Regions from separate parts of the Homo sapiens genome. Here region 1 is linked to region 2. The links come from fine-mapping of genetic effects on gene expression. A gene starts in region 2. The other region holds a variant in brackets. All regions are shown on one strand. Distances are from middle to middle.

Region 1 (4,512 bases), 32 kb before region 2:
ATGAAACACACCCTAGTCTCCTGCAGCGCCCCCAGGCTTGCTAGGATTAGGAAATTCCAGCCTGGCGAACTCTAGTCAGACCAGTTCTCTGCTCTTGAACCCTGTTAAGATGTTTATAAATGACAATGCGTGCACAGCAGGACATGGAAGCTCATGAGTGATTCTAGTTTTGCCCTGACCTTGTGATCTCGCCCTGACCTTCTGCCTTGTGATCTTTTGTTGCCCTTAAAGCATGTGATCTCTGTGACCCACACCCTATTCGTACACTCCCTCCCCTTTGAAAATTGCCAATAAAAACTTGCTGGTTTTATGGCTCGGGGGCATCACGGAACCTGCTGACATGTGATGTCTCCCCCAGACACCCAGCTTTAAAATTTATCTCTTTTGTACTCTTTCCCTTTATTTCTCAGACCAGCCGACACTTAGGGAAAATAGAAAAGAACCCACATTGAATTATCGGGGGTGGGTTCCCCCGATACTACATGTCATATGGTGAAACCACCTTTGTAAAAATTATAACTGAGAAAATTATGACAGTGAGAGATCTGACCTAACCAACTCCATCTTGCTTCTAACCTCCAAGCTGTCCTTGTTCGTTCCTGAGCATAGGCCTAACTAACTTTGGGAGAAACTCAGTTTACAGTTTAACTTTGAAGCAAAGATAACAGCCCTTTCCCTCTAGGCCGGGCATGGTGGTTCACCCCTGTAATCCCAGCACTTTGGCAGGCCGAGGCAGGCGGATCACGAGTTCAGGAGATCGAGACCATTCTGGCTAACATGGTGAAACCCTGTCTCTACTAAAAATACAAAAAATTAGCCAGGTGTGGTGGCGGGCACCTGTAGTCCCAGCTACTCAGGAGGCTGAGGCAGGAGAATGGCATGAACCCCGGGAGGTAGAGCTTGCAGTGAGCTGAGATCGCCTCCAGCCCGGGCAACAGAGCGAGACTCCATCTCAAAAACAAAAACAAACAAAAAAACCCAGCCCTTTCCTGAAACAAACCCTCTTCTTGTCTGGGGACCAGACTGCCTTTGTAGGATTAACAAAAGCCACAAGATTAGAGAGTATGGTTTAGGAGTCATGCAGCCAGGGGCCAGGGGTCACAAGATTTTAAACCTTCCCAATTGCTACTGGGGATAACATCACTATTGTAAAACCTAAGATTGGTGCTCGAGATATTTTTCAGACCCAGCACTCGATGGATCAGCTAGTGCCACCCAGATTGATAAACTGGGTCATCTGGTCCTGTGGTCCCCACCCTGGAATTTACTCAGTGCAGTTAGTCAACTTTGACTCCCTGTGATTTCATCTCTAACCCAACTAATCAGCACTCCCCACTACCTGGCCCCCCACCCACCAAATTATCCCTGAAAACCTCTGATCACTGAATTTTCAGGGAGATCAAGTTGAGTAATAACTCTGTTTCTCCCATGGCATGGCTGGCCCTGTGTCAGTTAAAGACTTTGTTTACTGCAATGCCGTGGTCTTTTTGTAGCAGGCAAAAAGAACCCATTGGGTGGTTACAATGGTAGATAACAGGGCCCAGGACAGAATTCCTGCTGGGTGCATAAAAGCTATTGTCATTACCAACACCATCATCACAAGAATCTTACAAACACTGCTGTGGGGCGGCAGGGAAGAGACACCTCTGTGCAGTCTTTTGGATGTTTGTCAAAATATACAATGACTCTAACTCAGCAAGTACCGCCTCAGAGGGAATAGTTATGATTTTTACATGAAAGCACACCATAGTAACATTTGCCTACTTGATTTTATTTTATTATTTTCTTATAGCTGCATTTTTTTGTTTTTCTAAATTTATAAAATAATATATAATTATTGTATGCAACATGATGTTTTGAAATATAGATACATTGTGGAATTGATAGGGACAGGAGGTAGGGAAATTCTGGGCAGAAGAGGCCAGGTCCATCAAGCTGAAAATCTTGATACCACGGCCCAAAGTGAGAACTTACATCCCTGTTTTCCCACTCAAATGTTGCCTTTTCCAAAACCACCCGTGGCTCACCCTGCCCCCCATCCTATGCCCATAAAAACCCCAGGCTCAGCCGGCAGAGAGAAGAAAAGCAGCTGGACATTGGAGACTATGGTTGGATGTTGGAGAGAAGCAGGCTGACTTCAAAGGGACAGCTTGACAGCGTAGCTTTGGAGAGGATGGCCAGGGATGGCCAAACTTCAGGGGACGATTACCTT[C/G]CTGCTCCATCCCCTTTTCAGCTCCTCTTCCTGCTGAGAGCCACTTTCACCGGCAATAAAATCCCCTGCATTTACCATCTTCAATTTGTTTGTGTGACCTCATTCCTCCTGGATGCCAGACAAAAACTTGGGTGCCATGAGTGTGGGTACAAAAGGCTGTCGCACTGACCCTCCACTGAGCTGTTAACACTTAAGCTATGCATGGATGGCAAAGCTAAAAGGGCACTGTAACACTTCGTCAGGGGCTTCAGGGGTCACAGCACCTTCCCCTAGACACTGCCGTGGGGCTAGTATGGAATTTGCTCTTGCCAGCACCCAAAAGCCCTCACCCTGTCTCCTGCACCCACTCACCTGTGCTCCCCTCCCCATGAGGGGTGGAACAACAAGCGAGTGGAGTTCGTCCCTGACAGCGCCCATGTACTCTAGTTCCCATCCAAGAAGGGGTCAGGGAAATATCCTGCTTCAGAATGACTAAATCAAGCTCATTAACATATGCATCACTTCACATTGTTTTGTTTTGAGACAGGGTCTCATTCTCTCACCCAGGCTGGAGTACGGTGGCACTATCGTGGCTCACAGCAGCCTTGACCTCTTGAGCTCAAGCCATCCTCCCACTTCAGCCTCCCGAGAAGTTGAGACTACAGACGTGCACCACAACACCCAGCTAGTTTTTTGTATCTTCTGCAGAGATGGAGTTTCACCATGTTGTCTAGGCTGGTCTCAAACTCCTGGGCTCAAGCACTCCTCCTTGCCTTGGTCTCCCAAAGTGCTGCGATTACTGGTGTGAGCCATGGCACCAGCCTTAGTTATCTTTTTTGTGTTGAGAAGACTTAAAATCTACTCTTTAAGCATTTGTCAAGAATACACCGTAACTACAGTCACCAGGTTGTACAATAGATCTCTTGAACTTATTCCTCCTAGCTACCTGAAATTTTATATCCTTTGACCAACATTGCCCCACTCCCACCACCTGGCAACCTCAGCCTCTGGTAACCAACATTTCACTCTATTTCTATGAGACAACTTTTTTAGGTTCCATATATGAGTGGGATTATGTAGTATTTGTCCTCTGTGCCTGACTTATTTCACTTAATATAATGTCCTCCGGTTCAACCTTGTTGTCCCAATTGACAGGATTTTCTTCTCTTTTATGACCAAATAGTATTCAGTTGTGTATCTCTACCACATTGTACAAATCCGTTTATCTGTTGATGAGCACTTCAGTCGCTTGACTATTGTGAACATTGCTGCAATGAATATGGCAGTGCAGATATCTTTTTGACATACCAATTTCAATTCCTTGTGATGTATACTCAGTAGTGGGATTCCTGGGTCATATGGTAATTTTATTTTTATTTTTATTGATTTATTTCTTTGGGACAGGGTCTTGCTCTAAAGCCCACTCTGGAGTGCAGTGGCATGATCATAGCTCATTGCCATTTTGACTTCCCAGGCTCAAGTGATCCTCCCGCCTCAGCCCCCTGAGTAGGTGGGACCACAGGAATGTGCCACCACACCCAGCTTATTTATTTATTTATTTTTGAGACAGGGTCTGGCTTTGTTACCAAGCTGGAGTGCAGTGGTGCAGTCTTGGCTCACCGCAATCTCCATCTCCCAGATTCAAGCAATTCTACTGCCTCAGCCTCCCAAGTAGCTGGGACTACAGATGTGCGCCACTATACCTGGCTATTTTTTGTATTTTTAGTAGAGACAGGTTTCACCATGTTGACCAGGCTGGTCTCTAACTCCTGACCTCAAGTGATCTGCCTGCCTCAGCCTCCCAAAGTGCTGGCATTACAGGAGTGAGCCACTGCACCCAGCCACTAATTTATTTTTATCTGGAAAAGAAAAGAGGTTCATTTGGCTCAAGGTTCTACAGGCTGTACAGGAAACATGACATCAGCATCAGCCTCTGATGAGGCCTCAGGAAGCTTCCACTCATGATGGCAGGTGAAGGGGACCTGGTGTGTGGAGATCACATGGCAGGAAGCAAGGGAGAACTATTATTACTGTGGGGTCAGCACCAACACATTCATGAGGGATCCGCTCCCGTGAGCAAAACACCTCCCACTAGGCCCCACCTCCGACACTGGGGATCAGTTTGCAACCTGAGATTTGGAGGGGACAAATATCCAAATTATATCAGGTGGACAGTGTGGCTGAGGCTTTCCCTGCTTCAGACGGAATTGGACACAGGCTCTGGGAGAGAAGATACAAAGTGCCGAGACCAGCTCAGTCAGGGAGACCCTAACCCAGCGGCACTAGAGGAATTAAAGACACACACACAGAAATATAGAGGT
Region 2 (4,222 bases):
TCAAAAAAAAAAAAAAAAAAAAGCGCAGGAAGGAAACACACCAACTGCATGGCAGGCAGAAGGCTCCTTGGGGGGCACGGGAAGGGAAAGGAGGGATGGGGAGCCAGGCCTTTGGTTGTAAGTGTAATCATTTATTTCTTTTAAAAAAAGGACCTGAAGCAAAATGGCAAAATGTCCACATCTATTCTATATAGGTACAGGGGACATAGAGGACTGTTATATTTTCTTCCTTTTTTTTTTTTTTTTTTTTTTTGAGATGGAGTCTTGCTCTGTTGTCCAGGCTGGAGCGCAGTGGTGCGATCCTGGCTCACTGCAACTTCCACCTCCCGGGTTCAAGCAATTCTCCTGCCTCAGCTTCCTGGGTAGCTGGGATTACAGGTGCAAGCCACTACACCTGGCTAATTTTTTTGTATTTTTGATAGAGATGGGGTTTCACTCTGTTGGCCAGGCTGGTCTCGAACTCCTGATAGGTGATCCACCCTCCTTGGCCTCCCAAAGTGCTGGGATTACAGGCGTGACCCAACGCGCCTGACCTGAAATAAATATTATTTAATTAAAAAACTAAAAGCATTACACTAGAAGAAACAGACCAAAGAGAAATCTAAAGAGATCAGTTGGACAGAGGAAGGTGGTGGGAGGAGGGCCTCTCTTCCATTGGCCGGTGGGAGGCAGCAAATGTCAGATGGTGGATGGGGGTTTTAGAGGTGGGGGTTAGCATGAGAGGTAGGGCACGGCGATAGGGGGGGTGCTGTCCATGCAGAGGGAATAACCAGTGCAAAGGTCTTGGGGTAGGAGGCAGGAAGGTGCCTGGTGAGTTAGAAGAACAGCGGGTAGGCTGGATGGGGGGTGTGAGCCAGGGGGAGATGAGGAGCTGAAGTCAGAGAGCTGACAGGGGCCTTGGGTGCCAAGGTGAGGACTTTGCTTTTACCTGGAGTGAGGTACAGCTGGGGCAGGGCTCTGAGCCAGGAGGGTAGTTAACTGACTCAGGTGGTCCCAGGCTCTCTCTGGCTGCAGGTGAGAACAGACAGTAGGGGCAGGGATGGGAGCAGGGAGATCAGGCAGGAGAGGATGGAGGCTGGGCCAGGGCGTGGGCAGCGGAGGAAGAAGAGTTTAGAATGGAGCGATTGATTTTATACGTGGAGCCCACAGTTTGTGACGGATTGGATGTGGTGTGAAGGAAAAGAGAGGGTCAGAAAAGACTCTGAAGTTCTGGGCCTGCCATTCATCAAAATGGAGAAGTCAGGTGGGCTTCTTTTGCAGGAGGAGGGGAAGGGTTGATGGAGAGGGTTGGGAAGGGAGTTTTTTCAAAAGAGGCGGGGACAGCGTACCCTGGAGAGCGCTGGGGAGCCACAGCCCCGGAGCTGTGAGGTGGGACTCGCATTTCTGTGTGGTTGGGCCAGGAGTCCAGGACACCACCTGACTCTGACCTCTTGCAGACGGGGCGGGGGAGGGGGGACGCAGGTTATGGCGTCAGAGCAGGATCGAATCCAACTCTGCCGCCTACCTACCAGGTGACCCCAACAAGTCACTTCCCATCTTAGAGGCCGGGCTTCTCCTTCCGTAAAAGGACTGATTTTGCCCGTTCCTGCGCTGTCCCCGGGAAAAGCCCTTACCACCGAGTTAGTGGGACTCCCAGCACTGGGGTGATGAGCGCAAGGTCTCAGCACAGATAAGAGCCAGGGAGGCTGGATTCTGACTTGGTACTTGGCCTGGCTGACCAAAACTGGGAAGTCCCTAGAAACGGAGGCACCGGACCTCCTGGGACCAGGAACCCGGGCTCAGAGACTGGGAGAGGGAAGGAGGAGGCGGCCAACCGGCCCCACCCCTTCCCGCCAGCTTCAGGCCCCCTCCCCCATACATACACCTCGGTTTCCCAGCATCTCCAGTCCTCCCCCACCTTCGCCCCGGCTCTCAGGTTCCTCCCTGGGAGGTCCAGGAGCTTCTGGCCAGGGGCATAGTAGTTGCTAGGGACCCTTTTCTAGGTACTAGGGGAGGGGGCTCCCCAACCTGCGGGCAGGCAGCTGCCTCCACGATGTTTGGTTTTAATAAAGTCTCTTTGTTTCCTTCTCTGTCTCTCTGCCCCTCTGCTTTCCCTTCTCTGTCCAGTCCCTCTCTCCCCGGCTTCTCCCTCCTTCTAGGCCTCTGCGGCCCCTCCCCGCCTTCCCTCCCGGGCTGGGGGCGGCGCCGTGACGCGGCGGGGCGGGGGAAGGAAGGGGGTGTCGCTGACGCCGCGGCGGCCTCCGGCGGCTCCGGCCTTTTGTGCGGGCGGTTGGGTCGGGTGGGGGCGGCGGCCGCGGAAGGCCAGGCCGGTGCCCTGCGGGGACGCCCAGCGCAGCCCAGCCCCGCGCAGCCCAGCCCTGCCCTGCCCTGCCCTGCCCTGCGCCCGGGGCGCGCCCACCGCGCCGCATCCATGTTCGAGTAAGGACCGGGCGACTAGAGCTCAGGGACCGGGCGCGCGGGGGAGGCCACCGGAGGGAGGGGGCGCCGCGGGCTTGGGGAGGGGGCGGAGCGGCCGCTGCAGAGGTCGGGGGCCTCTGCACATGGCTCTGGCCGGGGCGATCGGGGTGGGGGCGGGGCAGGGGGCCCCCGGGCGAGGGGTGCAGCTGGGGAGTGGGGCGCGGACGCAGGGCAGGGCCCGGGGTCTGGGTCGCCACTGCCGGCCCGCGACGCACTGGGTTGCGGGGTTTGGCTGGGGGCCCGCGGGTTCATCTGGCGGGGAGGGCCCTCAGGCCTGGCAACCCCCTGCCTGGTAAGCCAGGGGTGAGCGCGAGGCCGAACTGGGGCTCCGGCCTGGGATGGAGACAGGATCGGGACCAGCCCAGGCCCACAGGCCGCGGAGCCCTGGGCGCGCCGGGAGTAGGCAGCCCCCTCCTGCCTGGGCCCCCTCCCACCGTCCTTGGCTGTTGCGGGTCTCGGGGCTGCCGGGGGTGGGGGCTTCCTGCGTCTCTCCAGGACCGCGTGCTTGAGGTCATGGAGGGCGGGGGGTCCTGTGTGCTCGGAATTGACTTCTTACTCCCCTTCCGGTCCAGGTGGGCGCATGTGCTTCCGACTGTGAATTGTCTTGCAAGTGTGTGTACGTGTGTCTGGGGCTGCTAGCCTGCAGCAGCTTTGGGCCTCTGATAGAGTTCCTGCGTGTAACTTAACCACTAATTCTGACCGCGGCTCTGTGTGTCACTGTAAGTTACCTGTGTGTGTCTGGGGCTCCAAATCTGTGGCTGTGAGCAGCTGGTTGTGTGCGTGTTGTGTCTCATTCCATCTGTAGCTCCCTGTGCAAATATAAATTACCCCTGTGTGTCTGAGTGTGACGTTGGAGTGTTTGTACATGTGTCTGGAGTTACCGTGTGTAGCAGCTCTGATCCTTCTTGGGCTGTGTGTGTTTTACCATTAATTCTATCTGTAGCTCCAAGCGTTGCTGTAAGTTACCAGTGTGCGTCCCATTGTGACTTAGTGGTGTGTGTACAAGTGTGCCTGGGGCTCTGGGTTCTACCATGACCCTCTGTGCCTGCATATGCCTGTAATTTAGCTCTGAAACGCTCTTCTTTTTTTTTTTTTCTTTTGAAATAGAGTCTGGCTCTGTCGCCCAGGCTAGAGTGCAGTGGCACGATCTCGGCCCACTGCAACCTCCTCCTGCTGGGTTCAAGCAATTCTCCTGCCTCAGCCTCCTGAGTAGCTGGGATTACAGGCGTGTGCCACCACGCCTGGCTAAGTTTTGTATTTTTAGTAGAGATGGGGTTTCACCATGTTGGCCAGGCTGATCTCGAACTCCTGACCTCAGGTGATCCACCCACCTCGGCCTCCCAAAGTGCTGGGATTACAGGCTTAAGCCATCGCGCCTGGCTTGAAACTCTCATTTAGCTCTGTGTGCCAATGTAAGTTACATTTGTGACATTGTTGTGTGTCTGGGGCTCTGTGAGTGTGGCTGTAACTTAATTTGATTCCATCTTTGTGTGAACATTCCCTTGTGTATTCCTTTGTGACAGTATTGAGTGGTGCCTAGGCCTCTCTGTGTACAGCTGAGACCCTCTGTGGTTTTGTGTGTGTGTGAACAGTGTGAGACCCCTTGTGGCTCTCTGTAGGCTTGGAACCCTCCCTTCTAAGACCCTGGGAGTACCCAGGGCACTTTGGAGGCAATAATGATAACTGACGTTGTCCACCTGTTACAGTTAGTATAGCATGTGCCACGCATTATTCCACTACCTGGCCACTGTGTCCTCGAGATCCA

The links. PIP is the estimated chance that this variant, and not a neighbour inherited with it, causes the effect.
Region 1: its variant is the best candidate, but not a certain one, in a credible set for the expression of GRAMD1A in whole blood (INTERVAL, PIP 0.51).

Annotation. Positions count from the first base shown.
Region 1 is chr19:34,965,630-34,970,141 of GRCh38, forward strand. LOC124904699 (a long non-coding RNA gene) reads left to right here. Exons shown (of 2, transcript XR_007067236.1): 2 at 2,062-2,291. Among named protein-coding and RNA genes, the nearest start is that of ZNF792, 3.7 kb to the left of the region's middle. The variant C/G (reference allele first, on the strand shown) is at 2,213.
Region 2 is chr19:34,998,069-35,002,290 of GRCh38, forward strand. GRAMD1A (GRAM domain containing 1A) reads left to right here and starts at 2,255. Exons shown (of 20, transcript NM_020895.5): 1 at 2,255-2,418. The coding sequence starts at 2,411. RefSeq lists an enhancer at 1-315 and silencers at 2,090-2,469, 2,740-2,869.